Homo sapiens: one gene and its partner. The protein of the gene in region 2 binds, or shares a complex with, the protein of the main gene of each other region. Each region holds a gene or a part of one and is shown on either strand. Other genes may lie near its edges.

The links.
Region 1: the proteins of UPF1 (region 2) and UPF2 are in contact, whole or in part, in a crystal structure (PDB 2WJV), measured with the Homo sapiens proteins. Residues at the interface, in NP_001284478.1 of Homo sapiens: Asn150, Thr151, Ser152, Gly153, Val157, Asn158, Leu160, Val161, Arg162, Lys164, Lys166, Pro175, Leu176, Gly177, Thr179, Tyr184, Cys188, Asn190, Val191, Phe192, Leu193, Phe196, Pro198, Asp202, Ser203, Val204, Val205, Val206, Leu207, Cys209; in NP_056357.1 of Homo sapiens: Val1105, Cys1107, Glu1109, Asp1110, Phe1113, Ile1114, Ala1116, Leu1117, Met1120, Met1121, Asn1124, Leu1125, Arg1128, Met1169, Pro1170, Phe1171, Val1172, Met1173, Leu1174, Thr1175, Gln1181, Lys1184, Leu1186, Asn1187, Val1188, Pro1189, Ser1192, Gln1193, Leu1194, Asn1197.

Annotation. Positions count from the first base shown.
Region 1 is NC_000010.11:12,025,810-12,032,809, forward strand, and holds part of UPF2 (regulator of nonsense transcripts 2), read right to left. Parts: intron 3,716-7,000; coding exon 2,936-3,715; intron 1-2,935. UniProt on the Homo sapiens protein: Involved in nonsense-mediated decay (NMD) of mRNAs containing premature stop codons by associating with the nuclear exon junction complex (EJC).
Region 2 is NC_000019.10:18,834,069-18,850,415, reverse strand, and holds part of UPF1 (regulator of nonsense transcripts 1), read right to left. Parts: intron 4,437-16,347; coding exon 4,297-4,436; intron 2,673-4,296; coding exon 2,583-2,672; intron 342-2,582; coding exon 174-341; intron 1-173. UniProt on the Homo sapiens protein: RNA-dependent helicase required for nonsense-mediated decay (NMD) of aberrant mRNAs containing premature stop codons and modulates the expression level of normal mRNAs.

The DNA of each region.
Region 1 (7,000 bases), on a different chromosome or scaffold from region 2:
TTCGAGACAGGGTCTCTCTCTGTCGCCCAGGCTAGAGTGCAGTGGTGCGATCATGGCTTACTGCAGTCTCGACTTTCCAGGCTCAACTGATCCTCCCACCTCAGCCCCCAAGTAGCTGAGACTACAAGCGCATGCCACCACACCCAGCTAATTTTTATATTTTTTGTAGCAATGGGGTTTCAGCATGTTGCCCAGGCTAGTCTCAAACTCCTGGGCTCAAGCGATCCTTCTGCCTCAGCCTCCCAAAGTGCTGACATTACAGGCGTGAGCCACCGCACCCTGCCAGTACTATTAATAATACACATGTAATCAATATCCAAAGCTTTCATAAAGCTAAAATAATATACAAAAAGCATCTAAATAAAGTTTAACAGAGATATGCAAGTACACATTTAGGCTTTAAAAATTGTATTTCACTAGTTTAAGGTGAAGAAGAAGTGGCTTGTCAGCAGTTCATATGAGAAATAAAGCTTCAGTGCAAATAAGTTTAACAAAAACCAAAAGAACAACAAGGTAGCTATAAAAACTAAGGCAATTTTAGGTCACAGATAGAAAAGAATGCATCCAAAACAAGTATCCTAAGAGTAGTGAAGTGTCTGGAAATCATGGAGCAAACTGAAAGAACTGGAGGTATTTAACATGGAGACGAGAAAAGGGAAACATCACGGCAGTCTGAATATCTGAGATACTGTCATGGGAATAAAAGTGGACACATATGTCCTCTACTGGTATTCCTCAAACCATCTGTGGTAAAGGGCCACCTTTCCTTCCCCAACCACTGGACACTTCTGTAAAAATATAGTAAGAATACCATGACCACTGAAAATTCCTATAAACTTTTTTTTTTTTTTTTTTTTTAGGACGAAGTCTCGCTCTTGTCCTCCAGGCTGGAGTGCAATGGCACAATCTCGGCTCACTGCAACCTCCACCTCCCAGGGTCAAGTGATTCTCCTGCCTCAGTCCCCCACAAGTAGCTGGGATTACCGGGGCCTGCCACCATGCCCGGCTAATTTTTGCATTTTTAGTAGAGACGGGGTTTCACCATGTTGGCCAGGCTGGTCTCAAACTCCTGACCTCAGATGATCCACCCACCTTGGCCTCCCAAAGTGCTGGGATTACAGGTGTGAGCCACCATTTCCAGCCTGAAAATTCCTATAATAATTTCTAAATGCTCACTCTCACTTTCTGTGTTTCATTAAATTGTGAACAGGTTACAAGTTCATAGATTTCCTACTTCAAGTACCTGTATTCCATCCATACCAGAAAAAAGAACCAAATCAAAGGGAATCATTTTGTGGGAAGTTAAATTTCCACCTGATGTAACAAAGAATTCCTAGCCCATAGTGTTTCCAACAGTGCAATGGCACCGAGAGAACTGAGCTCCTTTGGGAAGTATTCAGAGGAAAAATAATTTTATCTGTTAGATAATCTAAAAAATGTATTCCTACTTTGGAAAGGTGAATGGATTGGATTAAAACATCGTAGAATCTCTCCACTCTCCAAGATTCTGAGTCCAATCAAAAGCAAATACACACACATACACCCTCAAAGTAGCCAAGAACTAATCAATCATTAGCATACTATTAGCATACTCACAAATCAGTTATGATGTATTAGGTAGGATGTACGAGCAAAGGACTATGAAATTGACAAAGCATATGGAAATCATAATTAAGCCCTAAGTAAGTGAGAAGTATGAATAAAGCACCACCATAATCCTTTTTAGTCCATTACTGATGGTACAAGTACACTCTCAGGTTGCCTCTTCAAAGTTTAAACCAGTCCTCGCAAATCAAAACACAAAACAAGGATAAGCCTTTTCCTTTTTCCTAAAAGAACTATTGATAACACCTTTGCCGTCTTAAATTCTCACCTCTGAGTGACCTTCAGCCACAAAGATTTAACCACAGTCTCTACCTTGACCCTGCCCTAACTGTACTACTGGCATACACTACTCCTGTTCAATCTTCTGGTCAATCATCTTCTAGTGGTAACTACTTAAACCACTCCTCCCCTACCACAGACTTATGAAACTAGAAAAGGATCTCCTCCTATACAAATTTCTGATCAACAGTAATTTCAGATTCTCAACCATGCAATATAAATAGTTGTAGAAATATTAAAATAGTTTAATACTCAGCCACGTGCTATGGCTATTACCTCTTTGCTACACTCCCTCAGCCCCCCTCCAAATCCATCCTCCATAGAAATTGACCTAATGCCTAGCAACTCCATCAACTTCTAGCTTCTTGTTGCTCCTCAGGTACAAATACTACACAGTAGTCTACCATACCTTTTAACAACCAAAATTGGCCCCAAAGTCAGGTCTTTTCACCAATTACCACAGGCACAGTACATTCCTCCTTTAGAATTTTAAATGAATGCCCCCAGGAAGAAGACTCCTACAAATGAGTTTTGTAGTTGCATTTAAGAAATTTTTTCACAGCTAATTTTGTGCATTATTTCCCAAAACTCTAATCTGAAATACCACTGGTAATTAATGACTCATTTTCTTAAGAAGAGCAACAGTGACATAAAGAACTTAAAATACAAAACAATGAAAGCAAACCTGTTATAGAGAGAACGTTAAAGCACACAGAAAAATATTAGCAGGTAAGTTTAAGTGACAGAAAAGGAAATTTTACCCCTTGATTATTAAGGAGTATTTAAAATCACAGGAAGAATACACATCCACAAAGCAAAAATCACCATCTACTTGGCAGATTTTTTTAAAATCAGAAACAAAATCTATCGTAGACTCACATTAAAACATGAGTACTCAGACTGTTCTACTTTGAAATTTTCCTGGAATGTTAAGAAATCACCTGTAAGGAGCCCTTTTCCATAAGTTCTTTCAGTGGCATGAAGACTTTAAACATTTTTAAGTATGAGCTCCAAAATAAATTCTCAACTCTGAGAAACATTTGAAAATCACCTGTTTTGTCTCTCAGTATTCTGGAGCTCCCTGTGGTCCCTTTTCAGGTGTTTGGTCAAAGACGTAAAGTACTCTTTTAAAAGATTCTGGAAGGGCTGTTGTTTCTCTGGACTAATTATCTCACTAGGAGGAAAACTCAAATTAAACTTCTCTGCAGCACTCTTTACTTTCCTTGGTACAAGTCCAGCAATATCATCTCCACAATGTCGACAGAAACTAATCACTACAGAGACATGAGTGTGGGACTCCCGATCAGCATTAATAATATTTTTTAGCTGTTCATAGATTAAGGAAAGACCTTCCTTGTCAGTGAAAATCCCAACTATTGTCAATTCTGCAATAAAACGCAAATCAGTTCTTAACTTGGTGATGTTAGGTGTTTTCTCCTCTTTCCTTGCTTCAAAATGTTTTTTCCAGACCTGAAGAAGTGATGGGGCAAAGTCAGCATAACGCTGGTGAAAGAGAGAGCAGAGGTGCACAGCACAGTTCACATCAGAGATTTTTAGTTTTGCTTCCACGATGGAAGCTACAGCTTCTGCAATGTATTTGCTTAAATTTAGGCCATTAAAATCATGGGACAAGGAGTCTCTCTGTTGTTCTGTAATAGTTTTTAGTTTCTTGACAAAAGCAGTATTTTTCTTCAAACTTGAGTCGAGGCGGCTGAAGAAGTTTTCCTCTGGTCGGCTGTCCGGAGCATTTTGGTTTTTGCTACGAAGTTCCTTTCTTAAATGATGTCGTTCCCAAGCTTCCTGATGAAGCTGAATGGATTCTTCTTTTTCTCTATATAAAAACAAACAAATAAATAAAATACTCTCTACATTTTGAAGCATTATACACAAATCCCCTAAGAGTAAAAAGCCAATGAAAAAAATTATCTAAGTATAACAATCTACAAGATTCAAAAGGCCTTTCACTACTTTTAAAGACATTTTACTGGCCAGGCATGGTGGCTCATGCCTGTAATCCCAGCACTTTGGGAGGCCAAAGCAGACAGATCACCTGAGGTCAGGAGTTCAAGGCCAGCGTGGCCAATATGGTGAAACCCCACCTCTACTAAAAATACAAAAATTAGCTGGGCGTGATGGCGCTCACCTGTAGTCCCAGCTATTCAGGAGGCTGAGGCACAACACTTAAACCCAAGAGGCAGAGGTTGCAATGAGCCAAGAACGTGACACTGCACTCTAGTCTGGGCGACAGAGCAAGACTCCGTCTCAAAAAAAAAAAAACAAAAAAAAAACACATAAAGACATTTTACTAACGACTAACGATAACAAGTATTATCTTAATGAGAAGCCCAGTACTGGAGGTCGATAACAAATGTCATAGAGCAGAGGATACTGACACTAGATTAAAATTAAAAATCATTCTGCCAACTGGCAAGCTAACTAGGTAAGACATATAATGCTACTGTGAAAAATATAGTATGTTTGGGAAGGATGTAAAATGTGAAACAAATAAAAGCAATGGGCAAAGAGAAAAAAAAACAATTATACACAAAGAATTATTTAAAGAATTAGCACTACAAGACCAGATGTGGTGGCTCCCAGCACTTTGGGAGGCGGGTGGATCACCTAAGGTCAGGGGTTCGAGACCAGCTTGGCCAACATGGTGAAACCCCGTCTCTACTAAAAATACAAAAATCAGCCAGTCGTGGTGGTGGGCACCTGTAATCTCAGCTACTTGGGAGGCTGAGGCAGGAGAATTGCTTAAACCTGGGAGTCGGAGACTGATGCTGCAGTAAGCCAAGATCTCCCAACTGCACTCCAACCTGGGCAACAGAGCGAGACTCTGCCTCAAAAAATAATAATAATAATAATAATAATTAGCACTATAAAAGAATGCATTAAAAATGTTTTGAGGCCTGGGCAGTGGCTCACGCCTGTAATCCCAGCACTTTGGGAGGCCGAGGCAGGCAGATCACGAGGTCAGGAGATCGACACCATCCTGACTAACATGGTGAAACGCCATCTCTACTAAAAATAACAAAAAATTAGCAGGGCATGGTTGCACGCGCCTGTAGTCCCAGCTACTCAGGAGGCTGAGGCAGCAGAATTGCTTGAACCCGGGAGGCGCAGGTTGCCGTGAGCCAAGATCATGCCACTGCACTCCAACCTGTGTGACAGAGCAAGACTCTGTCTCAAAAAAAAAGGCCAGGCACGGTGGCTCATGCCTGTAATCCCAGCACTTTGGGAGGCCGAGGCGGGTGGATCACGAGGTTAGGAGATCGAGACCATCTTGGCTAACACAGTGAAACCCCGTCTCTACTAAAAATACAAAAAATTAGCCGGGCGCAGTGGCAGGCACCTGTAATCCCAGCTACTCAGGAGGCTGAGGCAGGAGAATGGCATGAACCCGGGAGGCGGAGCTTGCAGTGAGCCGATATAGTGCCACTGCAGTCCGGCCTGGGCGAAAGAGCAAGACTCCATCTCAAAAAAAAAAAAAAAAACAAAACAGTTTTGCAATGTTAGATATTGTTTTTCCATCCTCAGCACATTAGCCAAACCTTTAACAAAGTACCTTGCTATGTTTGGGCTCTTAAAAATTCAAGTGATTTAGAAAATTTGGAAAGGAACCAGAAGACAACTATCAAATAAGAAACTTAATAAAAACCTAGTAGACTCAGTTTATACTGAAAAGAATAACCAAAAACAAATATACCTATTTTTCCACTAAAAAGACAGAACAAGTTTAAATTGCAGAAGTAATAAAATAGGCACGAGTGAGGGGCAACAATCTGATTTTGAAGTTTATTGAAGTTTTTGAGATAACAAAACACATAACTTAAATCTCCACTTTGTGAAGCTGAGGTGGGAAGAGCCCAGGAGTTAAGACCAGACTGGGCAACATAGTAAGACCCAATCTCTACAAAAAAATTTTAAAAATTAGCTGGACATGGTGGCACATGCCTGTAGTCCCAGTTACTTGGGAGGCTGAGACGGGGGGATCGCTTGAGCCCAGGAGGTTGAAGCTGCAGTGAGTCATGATCACACCATAGCTCTCCAGCCTGGGTGACAGAGTGAGCCCTGTCTCAAAAAGTTATACGCATATCTATAAATCTCTAAAAAAGTACATTTTCATCTTTCTGAGATAATCACCCCTGAGTTATAAGATAATTATTTGATTTTTCCATTAAAAGCTACAATATATTAACAGAAAGGTGGCCTCTATCACTGAGAACATGGACAGTTGAGTATCTCTTTGAAGTCTCCCAGCAACACACAAATACAAAATGAGCAGTGAAAGTACATTTTAAGAAAGTATGTACAAGGCTGGGTGCCGTGGCTCACGCCTGTAATCCCAGCACTTTGGGAGGCCAAAACGGGTGGATCACCTGAGGTCAGGAGTTCGAGATCAGCCTGACCAACATGGAGAAACACTGTCTCTACTAAAAATACAAAAATTAGCCGGGCATGGTGGCACATGCCTGTAATCCCAGCTACTCGGGAGGCTGAGGCAGGAGAATGGCTTGAACCTGGGAGGTGGAGGTTACGGTGAGCCGAGATCGCGCCATTGCATTCCAGCCTGGGCAACAAGAGTGAAACAACTCTGTCTCAAAAAAAAAAAAAAGAAAGAAAAGAAAAGAAAGTATGTACATACATTAAATAACTCAATTTTCAGCTGCATTGAAAACACTTATATATCGAAGTTTTTATGGGTAAATGCTATGATGCTCTACAATACTCCAGGGGGAAAAAGTGGGTAATTATTGATGCTAGGTAGATGGGGGACTAGTTCACTATACTATTCTATTTTTGCATATATCTGAAATTTTCCCAGGAGCTCAGGAGTTCAAGACCAGCCTGGGCAACACAGCAAAACCCCGTCTCTACAAAAAATACAAAAATTAGCCAAGTATGGTGGTATGCATCTGTAGTCCCAGCTACTCAAGAGGCAGAGGCGGGAGGATCACTTGAGCCCAGAAGGCAGAGATCGCAGTGAGCCAAGACCAGGCCACTGCACTCCAGCCTGGGTGACAGAGCAAGACCCTGTCTCAAAAAAAAAAAAAAAAGACTCTCTTAAGAATCATGGTTCTGAATATTCCAAAACTAGGCACTACTATAGCTT
Region 2 (16,347 bases):
CTTAACAAGCCTCAGCGCCTAAACGCTCTCATGCCTCACCCTTCAGCAAAAACCATCTTTGGAGGACAACTCCCTGGAGTTAGAGCCACGGCTGGGCTGGGCTGGGCCAAGGCTTGTGAGGAGACGGCTGGAGCTTAAAGGTCACCCCCAGGAGACATCTGGGGACCACTCACCTGCACAGCAGCACCACCACTGAGTCAGCTTTGGCCGGGATGAAGCCGAGGAGGAAGACGTTGCGACAGCCGCAGTTGTAGCACTCCAGGACTGTCTCCCCCAGGGGCCCGTCCTTGTGCAGGGTCACCTCTTTGCATTTTGCCCTCACAAGGTGATTTACAATGTGGCTGAAACCAGGAAATGATAAACGGTTAACACCCAAAATTTGGCTTTTCACCACTTCCAATTTTCGGGCCCCTGTTAAAAGTTCCGGTACCGTTCACGGTCCATTAGCAGAGGCAGTCACACCTCATCCATCTGGCATCTCTGGGGGCCAGCCCTCCCCCAAACTAGCTCCCCACTGAGCACAAAAATCAATCCCAACTTGAACCACTTTAAGGAAAACTTCCTTAACACGGTTCACATAGTTCCTGCCTTTTTTAAAAATCCTGCTTTCTTAAATCCAACTTATCAGGCCTAATTTAACCCATTGTTGGCCCAGGGCTGCTGTGGGGTCAGAGACATTTCCCACAAGGCCCCAGCCCCTTCTTTCCAAGGTCAACCCCCGCCACCATCTTCTGTGGCTTCTTCTGAAATCACTCCTCAGAGGCCCTGTGCCTACTTCCAGGAGCAACAGTCCCTCCTGCTTTGCTGCAGGCCGGGAAATCTGATAAGCAGGCGACTGGAAACCCCCGCAAAAAGCAGCAAAAAGGTTGAGCAGAGGCGGGGGCGGTTCTACAGAAGCCCAGGGCTGTGTGTGAAGCCCTGGCTGGCTCGGCTCCTTCCTTGCTGCGACGTGGCCAGGACACTGCTCACCTAAACCGCGGTCTGGGCTGAACCCTGCCCTGTGCCAAGCCAGCCACCCTCCAGCACCTATCTGCCGTATCTAACAAGGATGCCCAGCTGCTCTGCCTTTGGGCTCTTCCGGTGTCTCCAGCAGCTCTGAACACGCCTGCAGGGCCTCCCAGCCTTCCTCACCGCGCCCTCTCTCTTCCCCTCTGGAAAACCATTCTTGCCAAAAGCTTCAGCTCAGCTAATCTTCTAACCCTTCTCCCTGCCACGAGGCCCAGGATTCTCTAACCAGCCATGGCCACTCTGAGCATCTCCAAAGCCCGACTCCACTCTGGAGCCCTGCCGGCCACGTGGGCAGAATCAGCTGTCTCCGTGTCTTCTCATGCATCCTCACCCTGTCACAGCCAAGATCCCTAAGGGCCAGCGGCTGCTTCCTCACCTTCCCCTGGGCCTCGCACAGAATGCTCAGTGGTGCTTGGCTCAAGCCTGTTGTTTCTCAGAGGCCCTTTTGCTCACTTCCCTGTTCTTGGCTATGCTGACCGGAAGCTGGGGTTGCCAGCTAAGAGAAGTTTTATTTAGTTGCTTTTCCTGAACAAGAGGAACTAAATGCAAACATAGCAACACTTAAATTACCCAGAAGATTCTGAAAATGGGACAAGAATGTCTTTTGGTTATCCAGAAGATACCCTTCTTTAAAATCTTTTAAAAACAGCAGCCCCTTTCTGGCCTTGCTCATAACACCATATTTCAAGTTACTAACTCAGAGATGCCACGAGATCTGACTGCTCCATCTGTAACCCTCCGAGACCCACAGCTGTCAAAGGCACAGGAGGGGCTTGTGTCAGCACAAGTAAGCCTGCCTCCGGGCTTTGGTCATTTTCTTTCTCCAGAACGTGAACCTCAGAAAAAGACCCCACACTTCCTTGCTAGCACCTCGGAGCTCTGCCTCCCAGGCTCTGCTCCATCCTCTCCAGCAGTGGAGTGACCTGTACACAGCAACCTGGAGGGGAAGGGGAGCCGCTAGCACGGGACCCACCAGGACGAGAGTCCCACCACTCGGGCAAGACCATCGAACTCCCCCCTTGGAATTTGGGCACTGGGAGAACACTGTCCTGTCCCAAACACAGAACAAGCGACACAGTCCAGCTGCAGCTGATCAACATCAGGAAGGCAAGCCCAGCGCCGACGGTCAAGTGAACTTAATTGAAGCCGATGATTCAGGATCTGGCCTGAATTAGCCTCCGGACAGCTCCGATGAGCTCAGGCCAGAGCAAGCTTGCTCAGGAACCAGCGCCCCTGGATGCCCGTTACTGCCTTGGGAACATCCTCCCGTTAATGAAGATCAGCGGGTGTGCCAAGAGCTCATCTTGCAGAAAAATCGAAATAAAAACTGGGAAGGAGAATTAAGCCAACCCTACTTGCATAATAAAAAGAGCCACAGAGAATAAATCAAGGGTAAATACATTAAGGCATTCACACACCACCATCTGTTTCAAGTTAAACCAGTCACAGAGGAGGAAAAAACCCAGGTTTGTTAGCGTGATTTTATATTACGCTTTGCTTCAACATTTCCATAATTTACACACAAATCTGAGCACAGCACTGATTAAACACACATGCATGGTCTGATTATCTACCTGCCAGAAGTATTTCCACGTCCGTTGCAGAACCACTTCTTGCTGGTATTACAGTAAACCACGCAGGCAGGATCGTGTATTCCACAGTAACTAAAAAATCAAAACAGCGACAGTTACAGCTGGAAGCTTGCTCTCTGGTTTTCATTTGGCAAGATGTGAAATTCTTTCCTCTGACAACATTTTTAAGTTCTTCATTAAACACATACTCAACCCCAACAATCCCAGTAACCAAATCAAACCAGTTAACCAGGGCTTCTCAAATCCAAGAATGCAGGGAAGGGGTATGTGGCAGAAGCTCCGAGGGGATAAGGAGCAAAGCCACCTCCAAGGAGAGTCCTGCTGGAAGGAGGCCTCACTCCTCCAGGGCCATTCTAGTCCCCGTTCTTTGGCCTGAAATTCAGGAATCCAGCCTCAGACCCAGTGGTCATGGTGAACTCTGGGCTCCAGCAGAGGGCACTGTGCTCCCAGGGAGCTGGGCACAGACCCTGCAGCAGCAGCGCCCTGAAGCTCAGGCCCCGAAGCCCAAGCGAGGAGCCTCGGGAGAGCCTCACCCCACCACTGGCTGTGGTTTTCTGAAAATCCACATACCAAACCCAAAAATACTAGCTCCCCAGAGCTGCACCAGGACTTATGGCCATCTCTGTGTGTTAAGAGAACACAATTACATACACGAAAACATCTGTAAATGAGAATGAGTGAAGAGCTGAGATGCAGGAAAGAGTGCCTGCCCACCAAGCCTAGCGAAGAGCAGCCTCAGTCCCGGAGCGCTGGGCAGCACGCGGGCAAGGAGCTGCAGGGAGGGCCCCAAGTGGGTGCCCACAGACAGAGGCAGGGCTCAGGCCCAAACCTGCCGTGACTGTCGCTCAGGCTGGAGTGCAGTGGTGCGATCTCGGCTCACTACAACCTCCGCCTCCCGGGTTCATGTCATTCTCCTGCCTCAGCCTCCCAAGTAGCTAGCTGGGACTACAGGCGCCCGCCACCATGCTTGGCTAATTTTTTGTATTTTTAGTGGAGACAGGGTTTCACCGTGTTAGCCAGGATGGTCTCGATCTCCTGACCTCGTGATCTGCCCACCTCGGCCTCCCAAAGTGCTGGGATTACAGGAGTGAGCCACCGTGCCTGGCCAAAACCTTCTCCCCTCTTCTAATCTACATTTCCTCACTTGTGTGTCACAAAAATACAGAAATAAGCCTCAACAAGGGACGATCCCACTCGAGATGAGAATTCTAAATTTGTCAACATGCAGGTCTATCCACTAACTACTGTCTTCACATCCAATTCTCCAGGCACGGCCAAGGCAGCGGGAGGCAGGGATGCCCCAGAACCCTGCAGCAACTGCTTTGTGAGGGTATCTCAGCTGCTCCACTCACCCTCCCACCCCAGATGCTCACCCAATGCCATGACAAATTCTTTCTATGAGTGAGTGCGCAGGTACCAGGCAATGCCCCCAGGGTCTGAGGAGGCCAAAGGAAGGAAAACTTTTCCCACCAGCTGGTGAATTCAGGGTGTCGGAGGTTGCTGAGCCCACCTCCTGACCGGTAACAGGCCTTGGCTGTGCACATGGCCTGAGCAATTTCCTTACTCCCGAGGACACCGCCACCCAGAGTCACAGCACAAGGGCGCCACCCTGTACCTGGGAGGTGAGTGTCCCAGGCCCATGCCAGAGGCACCCACCTGTCCAGCACATGCCCAGGCCCAGCTGAGCTCAGCTCACCTGCAGGCGTGTATGGGGAGGTCCTTCGTGTAATAGGTGTCTTCTTCATCTTCCTCGAAGTTCAACTCAGCCAACAACTGGCTGGTCTTGGCTACACTGTCGTCCACAGCCCCGTTCTGCAGGATGCCTTCGGGCCCAACCTGCAGCAGAACGCAGTGTCACCTGAGTGAGGCTGCAGCTTCCAGGACTCAGTGCAGAAGAACCAGCCTCGATGACTCTGGTGTGACACCCTGGCCTCATCTCTGCTTTGAGACAGTTTCCCTTGTTCTGACTGGATTTCACTCTTCTCTAGCAAACCTACCTGGCCAAAAAAGGGCCACTGGTGGCCTTCTACACCCCCCGGTCCCCCACACAGCTGGTCTAACCCCCGCCTAGCCACAGAGCCATGTCCATGCCCACAACCAGGATGCTTAGGAAGATGCTTCTTTCCCATGACTGAGGACCACAAGGAGCAGGGTGACTTTTACAGACTGACAGCAGTGTGCCCTGAGGACAGCTTCATGATGCCAGACCCACCACAGTGTAAGGCTCATCAAACACTACGAAGCTGCCACCCATGCAGATGTGGAAATGTCACTGGCCACATCCACTGCCACCTCACCCTCCCCATCCCTTCAAGGCAGCCCTCTCCTGAGGATGAAGTAGAAACTGAACACTGAGATACCCTTGGCAACCGAGGCCACACCCTCACTGAAGGCGCCTCTTCTATGTTCAGCAAAGGCAGACAGCGCATGGCTCTAAGTCATCAGGCCACAACTGCACAGGACACTTGCAAGGAGACCACACAGCCACTGGGGCTCCTCATGCCACTCCCAAGTACCAGCACCTCAAATGACATGGCCAACAGTCCCTGGCATGGCCCCCATAGGCCACCTAACCCCACCACGGGGTCAGGCAGCGGGAGCACTGTGTCATGGCAGAACACAAGGTGGCACAAAATTAAGGGCCAGGGAGGAGTGATGGGAGCTCCCCTAGGGACGGCACCAAATCTCCCACTGCCAGTCCCAGCACCCCAGACAGCCCCTCGGCCTAATGCCCTTGCTGTGTGATGCAGCACCTGTGCGAGCCTAGGGACAGGTGCTCATGGGGAGCAGCACCCCACAGAGGCCCCTCCAGCCCGCCTGGCTGGGGTGCATGGGCACGTGCTACCTGCACGCACAGATGCACACTGGGCCCAATGCTGCCCTGCAGTGATCTGGTCACAACACAAGCTGACTTCTGGGTTAACTTCTCCCTTCACTCTCTGAAAAGTTTCAAGATAAAACATTAATTTCAAAAATATATTTGACCCTAGGAACTATCATGAAATGAGGTAAAACAGCAGTAGGGGACAGTGCCTGGCACAGAGAAGTTCCACAGCCCACGCCAGGGGACATGATGGGTGAAGGACAAGAGGGTCATCATCTTCAGCTGGCACAGAGCTGCCACTCCAATAAAGTCCTTTGAGGCTGTCAACTTATCCCCTCACCAGGGAGGCTCTGGAGGGGCAAGGCCTCCCTGTACCCATCCCAGGCATTCACCAAGAAGCAGCTCCTCGGCAGGGCGGATCACCTGAGGTCAGGAGTTCGAGACCAGCCTGGCCAACATGGTGAAACCTCGTTTTTACTAAAAAGGCAAAAAAAAAAAAAATTAGCTGGACGTGGTGGCACGTGCCTGTAATCTCAGCTACTTGGGAGGCTGAGACAGGAGAATTGCTTGAACCCAGGAGGCGCAGGTTGCAGTGAGCTGAGACCGTGCCACTGCACGCTCCACCTTGGGCAACAAGAGCAAAACTCCATCTCAAAAAAAAAAAGAAAAAAGAAAAACCCAAACCCCCCCCCGGCCCCCAAAAAAAGCAGCTCCTCCCATCACCTCTGCTCTGGACACAGTATTTAAAGACGTATCCTAGAATTCCCACTTCCTAGTCATACACGAGGCCCCAGAGCTGGAGTCTCTAACTCCTTTAGTTCTGGATGTGAACCTAGCTACGACTAAAACCACATCCTGGAAGTCCATCTAAGAGCTGTACAGGGGCTTTCTGCCCAGAGACATGCTCCAGAACTCAGACCGTGCATCAGGGCAGCACAACAGTAGGTCACTTCAAGGCTAGGAATGGTGGCTCACACCTGTCATCCCAACACTTTGGGAGGATCGCTTGAGCCCGGGAGTTCTCAAGACCAGCCTGGGCAACACAGCCAAGATCCTGTCTCCACAAAAAAATACACAAACGAGCCAGGTGTGGTGGCGCACACTTGTAGTCCCAGCTAATCAGGAGGTTGAGGCCGGAGGATTGCTTGACCCCAGCAGGTCAAGGCCGCTGTGAGCTATGATGGTACCACTGAACTTTAGCCTGAGCAACAGACCAAGACCCTGTCTCTCTTAACAACAACACACACACACACACACACACACACACACACACAAGCCTGGCCAACATGGCAAAACCCCATCTCTACTAAAAATACAAAAGATTAGCTGGGCATGGTGATGCGCACCTGTAATCCCCGTGCAGGAGAATCGCTTGAACCCAGGAGGCGGAGGTTGCAGTGAGCCGAGATCACACCACTGCACTCCAGCCTGAGTCACAGAGCAAGACTCTGTCTCAAAAAAAAAAAAAAAAAACAAAGAAAGTCACTTCATTCCCACAGACGAAAACCACAGAAATTCAAAAACTCAAAAATCCCCCCAAATGTGCCATCATAAACTCTCAGGCCGCAGACATCTACTCCAACATTTGCACCACTGTCTGCATTTGCCAGCACCCAGGCCTTGCACCTGCTGTTCCCTCAGCCTCAGGGTGAGGTCCACAGGGTGCCTCTCAGGCAGGCATCCTCTGACCCCACCTCAAGGCCCCCGTGGGGCATTGTCTGTCCTGCTCCCTGCCATGAGCCCAGCACCTAGATGGAGCCTGCACCCCAGGAGGCCCTCAACATTGTTGGCTAAAGGCCAAGCTCAAAAGGCAAAGCAGCTCATTCCTGATTCTCTAATTCCAAGGCTTAAATAAAAGAGAGGGCAGGAGGCCAGGCGTGATGGCTCATACCTGTAATCCCAGCACTCTGGGAGGCCAAGGCAGGAGGATCTTGAGCCCAGGGTTTGAGAATAGCCTGGGCAAGATAGTGAGGCCCCATCTCTATTTAAATTTTTTTTTTTTTTGAGACGGAGTTTCACTCTCGTTGCCTACGCTGGAGTGCAATGGCGCGATCTCGGCTCACCGCAACCTCTGCCTCCCGGGTTCAAGCGATTCTCCTGCCTCAGCCTCCCAAGTAGCTGGGATTACAGGCATGCGCCACCACGCCTATTTTTAGTAGAGACAGGGTTTCTCCATGTTGGTCTGGCTGGTCTCGAACTCCCAACCTCAGGTGATCCACCCACCTTGGCCTCCCAAAATGCTGGGATTACAGGTGTGAGCCACTGCACCCAGCACCCCCCCAAATTTTTTTTAATTAAAAAAATTGTAAAGGAAAAAAAGGGGAGGGAATAGGAAGTTCACCACACCCTCAGAGTGATGACTGCCAAGAAGCTGCAGGGTCTCTGAGCCCTCTCAAGGCAGAGGGTTGCCAGGAGGTCTGGCCCCCAAACTGGAAGGATTCTGCCCTGATATTTCCTCTTATTTTGAAAAATTCCAAAGCTACAGAAATCCGACCCCCACACCCCTCCAGCTGGACACTCTCCATCACATCCCCCTGCACTCCGACTCCCCTTGCTCTCACACACTTATCTCTTCCTGACCCATTTCAGAGTGGCCGGCCCCAGGGGAGGGCTTTCTCCACATCCCCACAAAACAGCTGGCTCATGAGCGCACCCAGCCTGCCACACTGTTGGTTAATACACATTCACCCATCACCCCAATGTCTTCATAACGTCTTTTACAGGTTTTTAAGAATCCAAGTCCCAGTTAATGACTGCACGTGATTTGTGATGTCTCTTTAGCCACCTTTAATCTATTAGTTTGAACCACGTGAAACTGCTAGGAGTTGACCATCTTTCACATAGTCCCACCACCCGACACAGCGGTCCCCAGGCTCTCCATTCCTTTATTTTTTTGAGACAGGGTCTTGCTCTGCCACCCAGGCTGGAGTGCAGTGGTAGAATCATAGCTCACTGCATCCTCAAACTCCTGAACTTAAAAGAGATCCTCTTGCCTCAGCGTCCCAAGTAGCTGAGACTACAGGTGTGCACAATGCCTAGAAAGTTTTTTAATTTTTCAATATGTTGCCTAGGCTCACATTCGTTCTTCCCAAAGAGAAAGGGCCTCTCGCCTCCCCTCTCACCAATGGCACCTGTGTGGACCGGCAGACCCTTGTTCCAGCCAGGTGTGCTAGAGTCCGCGTGAGGTTCATTTCAACGGGCCGAGTGTGCAAGGCATCCCCAGCTCACCTCAGGCCGCCCCTGCCTTCCCAGCCCGGGGATCAGCCACTCTCCCTGGAGCCCACAGCCTGAGATGAAATCCACTCCACACCTTCAGCAAGAAGCTGAAGTGTGACAATGAGGGGTTCAGTCCAGAAGGTGCACACCTCACAGGACAACAACCCAGGCCAGACTGCAGCTTGGCGAGATGAAAAGCAGCGGGAGAGGCCGCTCGGAACGCAGGGCCCAGAGACAGCCATCATCTCAACAGCGGACCTCCAGGATCCCAGTAAAGAATCTGCTGTGGAGAGAGGCCAACTGTCCCTACATATCGGACAATCGTGAAAAGCCATTGTTGACGCTGCTTGTGTGATAACGGCGCTGCAGCTATTCAGGACAGGCGCCCTTTTCTGCTTCTAGAAATGCATACTACATACTGCAGGTCAAAATGGCTGAGTATCGCCAATTCACAGGGCTCCACCTCAGACACAAAGGTGAAAGGACACAAAAGACTTGCTTTAAAAACACACACCAGTGAAGAAAAAAAAAGAAAACAGGGAGAAGAAAACCTTCACAACTGTCTCATCAGGGAGACGGAGGCACAGGGCTCACCAGCTCTTGTATGTTAGAGAATTCATCGTAGACGTTTCTACACGGAGGATGCAGCAGGGCTGCAAGCTATGCGCATGGATCCCCGTACTGAAAAAGAGGTGAGGACGGTGCAGGCAGCGCAGCTCTGACCAAACACCTCTGCCTGGGATCTGCAACCCCCTCTCCCAGGGCCGCCAGGAGCCTGCACTCGCTCTGCAAGGAGCTGATGCTTCAGGAAGATGCCATGCTCACTGTCACAAGGGCTCTCTAGAGCCCAACGAGCCACCTTTACACATCTAGACACCATCCTGGCAAAGGCCCACGGGACCTGAGAAGCCCGGCTGGGTTACCCGGCTCTTAAGCTGCTATTCGACCAACACAGAAAAAGGCACAAGGACCTGCTGCCAGCCACCAGACTCCAGGACCCAGCAGCCCTCCATGTATCAGAGAAAGCAGAACTTTGCTCTCATAGGTATGTGCTCCAGCAAGGAGAGCTCAAGGCCATGAACCCTCCGGAGCCCCGAACAGCACTGGTGCCAGGGCCCGGACCCACTCCTCCCACCAGCCCCTCCAGCCAGGCCCCTCGGCCCTGAATGCCACAGAGCACAGCTGGGTGTCACGGCCCTTCTCTGCCAAGCTAGACTATCCCGACCACCATGAAAGCACTCTCACCACCATGACAAGCACAAACTGCCCCTCAGTTGTGAGCTGCTGCCCAGCATGTGCCCTTTAGCTTCCTTGCAGCCGCTCTGGGGAGGCCTCTCCCTCTCACAAGGCCCTCAGGACGGTGCCTCCCCAGCGGAGAGAGCCCCGGCTCAGCCTGGGGAATTATGGACCCTGATGAGACCACAGGCAGGAGCTGGAGCTGCTTTTTAAGTCTGTGGCTCCCTGTGAGGACTGGGAGGGGGCAGCCGGTACCCTGGCAGTTCCCACAGGCACACACACTTACACACTTACTCATGCATACACACATGTACACACACAGCCCTGATCCCGGTGTCCTCCGTCTCCACTGCCCTGTGGCCCCTCCATCCATTCGGGGTCCAACCTGGGCCACAATGCCCAACCTCCAACACCACAGCCCCTCCCCTAACCCCCGCCACTGCCATCTCAGAGCCCTCCTCCCAGCCTTGGTCAAGGCACCCCAGCAGCTCCTAAAGGCTCCAGGACACAGCCCAGCCCCTGCCCTGGCCCCACTGGCCCCACATCCACCCTCCCTCCTTCTAGGCAAAGTGCTGTGCCCACCCCTCTGCCTGGCAGGTACAGCTTCTGAACAACTCCAGAGGCGCCATTCCCACAGGCTTTCCCTTAGCAGGGGAGCCCACTCCTACTCCTGGGGCCCTCACAGCACCCTGGCCAGGCGGCATGTGCTGTCTTCTAACAGTGCAACCGCGGGGGTCAAAGGCTTCACTCTCCCTCTGCTGGCCTCACTGCCCTCAGTCCCACAAGCACAGCAAGGCCAGGAAGTAAGAAAACAGCAGGGGATGGCTGAAGTCCAGGGCCAGGCTGAAGAGGTTGCCCAGCAGCTCGCAGAGGGTGCAAAAGTTAACAGACACGGGGCTTAAAGGCGGGGGAGCATGGGGCCAGGGCTTGGCCATGTTTCTGACCTCCCCAGGGCAGGGCTCAGTCTGAGGCGGTGGACACACCTCCCTAACGGGTGACCTTGGGCATGAGCACAGGGTCTGACAAGGGGTGGTGGGGAGGGAGCGGAAAGGAGCGAAAGAGAAATCAGAGACAGCAAGGCACTGCTGTGGTGGCTGCCCAATTCCGTAAATTTACTAAAACAGCACTAAGTTCTATACTTAAAGGGGCCAGGTGTGGTGGCTCATGCCTGTAATCTCAGCACCTTGGAAGGCCAAGGTGGGCAGATCACCTGAGGTCAGGAGCTCCAGACCAGCCTGGCCAACATGGTGAAACCCCGTCTCTACTAAAAATACAAAAAAATTAGTTGGGCATGGTGGTGCGCACCTGTAATCCCAGCTACTCGGGAGGCTGAGGCAGGAAAATCACTTAAACCCGGGAGGCAGAGGTTGTAGTGAGCCAAGATCGCGCCACTGCACTCCAGCCTGGGCGACAGTGCGAGACTCCGTCTAAAAAGAAAAGAAGGGGGTTCCCTGGTAGGTCATCAGACTTCAATCAAGCAATGAGAGAAATGTGGTGGTAGCTGATGGTGGTAAGCTTTTGTGGTGGTGGTAGCTAGGCTGAGAGGGAACTCTTTTTTTAGTTAGTCCTGGTATAGTATTAGTCATAATCCCCCACCCCGTCATCCTGAATCCGGGTAATTAATTGTGATAAAAATAGAAATTGTTTCGTGTATTCACCACTAACTGTAAAGTGTCAGCTCAGGTCACTTTCACATAATCACTGGGAAACTCCTAACAATTTGAAAACACACTCAGTAAGTCTACTAAGGGGTAAGTGCTGACCAAACACTTGCCAACACTCCTCCAGGTAAACGGCATCTTATCTCCAATGTTCTGGCACCCTAAAACCACACCTGGGCTACCAGAGGATTCAAAAAGCCAAAATGAAGTCATGAGCATTTTTTTTTTTTAAGATGGAGTTTTGCTCTTGTTGCCCAGGCTGGAGTGCAATGGCACAATCTCAGCTCACCGCAACCTCCACCTCCCGGGTTCAAGCGATTCTCCTGCCTCAGCCTCCCAAGTAACTGGGATTACAGGCATGTGCCACTATACCCAGCTAATTTTGTATTTTTAGTAGAGACAGGATTTCTCCATGTTGGTCAAGCTGGTCTGGAACTCCTGACCTCCGGTGATTCACCTGCCTCTGCCTCTCAAAGTGCTGAGATTACAGGCGTGAGCCACCAAGCCCGGCCTGGATTTTCTTCTTTTTATTAAGACAAGGTCTCACTCTGTCACCCAGGCTGGAGTGCAGTGGTGCGATCATGGACATTTTGCCCAGGCTGGTCTCAAACTCCTGAGCTCAAATGATCTGCCTGCCTCAGCCTCCCAAAGTACTGGGATTACAGGCATGGGCCATCGTGCCCAGCTACATGTGCAGATTTTAAACTCACCACTTTTCGGAACCCAAGACTGTATGGAACTCACCCCGCCTTGGTCATAATCTCAGGGCTCAGCAGAAGATGGTGTGTTCACCTGGACAGTCAAGGATAGGTCAGGACAATGGCTTTGAAGACAAAGTAGCAACTTTCTATCCTGAGTATTTTACCACTTCAAAAGGAAAAGTGAGCCCAGGTTTACACACTCAGAGAAGTGGAGGCAATACAGAGAAGTCTGGCAGGAGGAGAGTGAGGGCTGGACGACAGGTCGGCTAGGAGCTTTAGCTAGTTGTCCCTTACGATCCAGAAAGACAGCATGTTTTTCCTAGGGAAACAACTCATGCACTCAGAGTAAAATCCCAGTACGAGATGACTATTCAGCTGTGACTCCCACAGGCTACCAGGAGTGGAGACGGAACAGGCAGTGCAGACCTGACCTGAGGATGAAGGAACAAAGTGGGACCAGTACCAAGCAGCATCTATCTACAAGGTCACCCAGAGCACCTGCACAAAAACATGCGTGTTGCTGCCTAAAAGGTCTGTACCTACCCACAGACCTCATACTTTCAGGTGAGCTAAGAAAAGCAACTCAAACCAATAGGCACACATTTTTCCCACTGGATGTACACACTGCTTTGTTTACCCATTCATCTGCTGATGGCCACTGGGGCTGCTTCCGGTTTGGGGTTCTCATGAAGAGATGCTGTCAGCATTTGGCGCAGCCCTGCGTACACACACCTTCATCTCTGCTAGGTCACAGGTAGGTGTATGGCATGAGAGTTCCAGGCAGCACTTTTGCCAGGCTCAATGGCTCACTCTGTAATTCCAACACTTGGGAGGCCTGAGGTGAGAGGATCTCTTGAGCCCAGGAGTTCAAGACCAGCCTGGGTAACATGGCAAAACCCCATCTCTACAAAAAAAGAAAAATCAGCCAGACGTGGTGGCACACACCTGTAGTCCCAGCTACTTGGGAGGCTGAGGTGGAAGGATCGCTTGAGCCCAGGAGGTCGAGGCTGCAGTGACCCATGATAACGCCACTGCACTACAGCCTGGGTGACAGAATGAGACTTTGCCTTAAAACAAAAACAAAAAACCCAAGTAGCACTTTCAGCCTTTTAAAAAAAGTATGGCAGGCTGGGCGCAGTGGCTCACGGCTGTAATCCCAGCACTTTAGGAGGTAGAGGAGGGCGGAACACGAGGTCAGGAGATCAAGACCATCCTGACTAACATGGTGAAACCCTGCCTCTATAAAAATACAAAAAATTAGCCGGGCATGGTAGCACACACCTGTAGTCCCAGCTACTCGAGAGGCTAGGGCAGGAGAATCGCTTGAACCCAGGAGGTGGAGGTTGCAGTGAGCCAAGATTGTGCCACTGCACTCCAGCCTAGGCAACAGAGCGAGACTCCGTCTCCAAAAAAAAAAAAAAAAAAAAATGGGTGGATAGTGGTATCTCCCTGACTTTTCTTTCCAGTTTCATTGAGGCATAACTGACATACCATAAGCTGCAAATGTTTAGTGTGCCATTTTAGAAACTGACATACATCAATGTACTTAAACACCCATAAAACTATCACTACAATCACGATAATAAAAACGTCCATTACCCCCAAGTTTCCTGTGCCCTTTGTCACCTGCCTCCCCTTTCCCACCTTTCTGTCCAGCCACCACTGGTCTGCTTTCTATTGCTGCAGGCTAGCTGGCAATTTCTAGAATTTTTTTATGAATTAAATCATATGATGAATGACACATACAAAAAAGTAATTATTATGAGACACATCCATGTTGTTGCAGGTATCAATAGTTTGTTCCTTCTTAATACTGAGCAGTATTTCCAACTCTTAAGAGTTTCACTCTAGTTCCCGTTTGGAGGATCCAGGGCAGAAGCTACAGTCAAGAGGAAATATTCCAACCAGGCAGACCAAAAGGCTTGTAACACCAGCTATTATGCAAAGGACTTCTGAAATTACCTTCACTGTCCTGGGAGCAGGAGAAGTGGCAGCAGAGAAGGGCCCAGGAAAAGGTCAGATGCTCGAAAACTGTCCCTGTATCTTAAGGACACTTGGCAATACTGTGTCAGCGCTTTTCATCCCAGGATCTCAAGGGCTTTGATAAATATCAGTTTCATTTCATAAACAAGAAAAGGAGTGTTATCTGAACCAGCTCTGAGTGCAGGGAGTCACCCCTGCTGCCACTTTCCCATCCCGGTGGGGACACACTGTCTTTCAACACACATTAAGGGAAAACCAACTGCGCAAAACCAGTTCAGGTAGGGTTGGTATGGAAAGTGGCTACACACTGGAAAACAGTCTTGCAGTTACTGAAACCATTAAACCCAAGGTTACTACGCGGCCCAGCAGGTCTATAAACACATCCACGCAGAAACCTGTACACTCATGGCCACAGCAGTGCTATTCACAAAAGCCAAGAGGTGGAAACAACCCAAATGTCCATCAACAGATGACGAGATAAACAAAACATGGTCCATCCATCTGGACCATTCCACCCATGGAATATTACTCAGCCTTAAAAAGGAATGAAATGCTGGCCAGGTGCGGTGGCTCATGCTTGTAATCCCAGCACTTTGGGAGGCCGAGGCAAGTGGACCACATGGTCAGGAAATCAAGACCATCTGGCCAACATGGTGAAACCCCGTCTCTACTAAAAATACAAAAATTAGCCGGGGCATGGTGGTGTGCACCTGTAATCCCAGCTACTGGGGAGGCTGAGGCAGGAGAATCGCTTGAACCTGGGAGGCACAGGTTGCAGTGAGCCAAGATCACGCCACTGCACCCCAGCCTGGGCAACAGAGCGAGACTCTGTCTCAAAAAAAAAAAAGGAATGAAATGATGACACATACCACAGCGTGGATGAACCTCGATCAGGTTCATTTTCCTGAATGCTCGGCCAGGGAACAGCTACGAAGCTCACCTTGTAGCTACTTCTCACACATCACGCAGAGTGAAAGGAGCCAGACACAAAACACCATATATGATATGATTCCGTTGATGTGAAATGCCCAGAACAGGCACATCTTGAGACAGAAAGCAGGTGAGTGGTTGCCAGGGGCTGTGGAGGTAGGACGGATGGGCTAAGGGGTGCAGGGTTTATCTCTGGGGTGACAAAAATGTTCTAAAGTTTACTGTGGTAATGGCTGCACAACTCTGAATATACTAAATAAAAGCCGCCGAACTGTACACTTTATATGGGTAAATTGTATGTTGTGGCAAGTGAATTCTATTTCAATAAAGCCGCTAAGCAAAAGTGACTGCAGGGCACTTGACAGCTGATAGCCACTTCCCCAGTAAAATAAAAATTAAAAAAGCAGAATGAGAGTTTCCAGGAGCCCCCAACTTAACAGCTGGTTACACGGCCAACTCCTGAGGACAAACAGGGAAAGTCTTCCCAAATATCTTAGCAGACACTGCCTTCAATTCACACAAGAGATAACTTTCTTCCGCTTTCCCTTGAATGATATTCATAGACTTCCTTGCCCCCAAATTCCGTTCTTCCCCTTGTGATGCAAAGGGGTACCACTCCCATTCCCCACAAACAAATCCAAATTACAGGTAACAGGTGGGTGGGGCATCTGGGTCAATTACAAGTAGCACAGGACAAACCCTCTGATGTCGTCAGAATTCTAGTGAGCTCAACTGCAATGTTTACCTCCAGGGGAGCGTTTTAATGCTCTCCTTTTGTACAGCCCAGTGTGTTCAGGTGCAGGAAAAAAAATCAATTGTTTCAACTGAAAGAGAAGGACATGCCCCACAATTAATCCCAAACGGAATGCCAGAAACAAAAGCAGAACTAAAGGCTGCCCCAGGTTTGCTGTTTTATGCTCGCTACAGTTAAAAGGATTCACAAGAAAATGATTACCTTTCACACCCAGCCAACCCCCCGATCCGCGCTGTCACGCTCATGGCTCACTGCTCCACAGAGATCTTTACCGAGTCTCCCCGACAGGCTGGACGTCAGATTACAGACAGCGTATACAGTCGACTCACACATGGATCTAGGTTTCCTTTATGTTTAAAAGGAATAAAAATCTAACTGCCACCCCCATTTCACAGCTGCGGAAGCAGAAAGGTCTACAGGGCATGAAAACTACAAGGAGGTG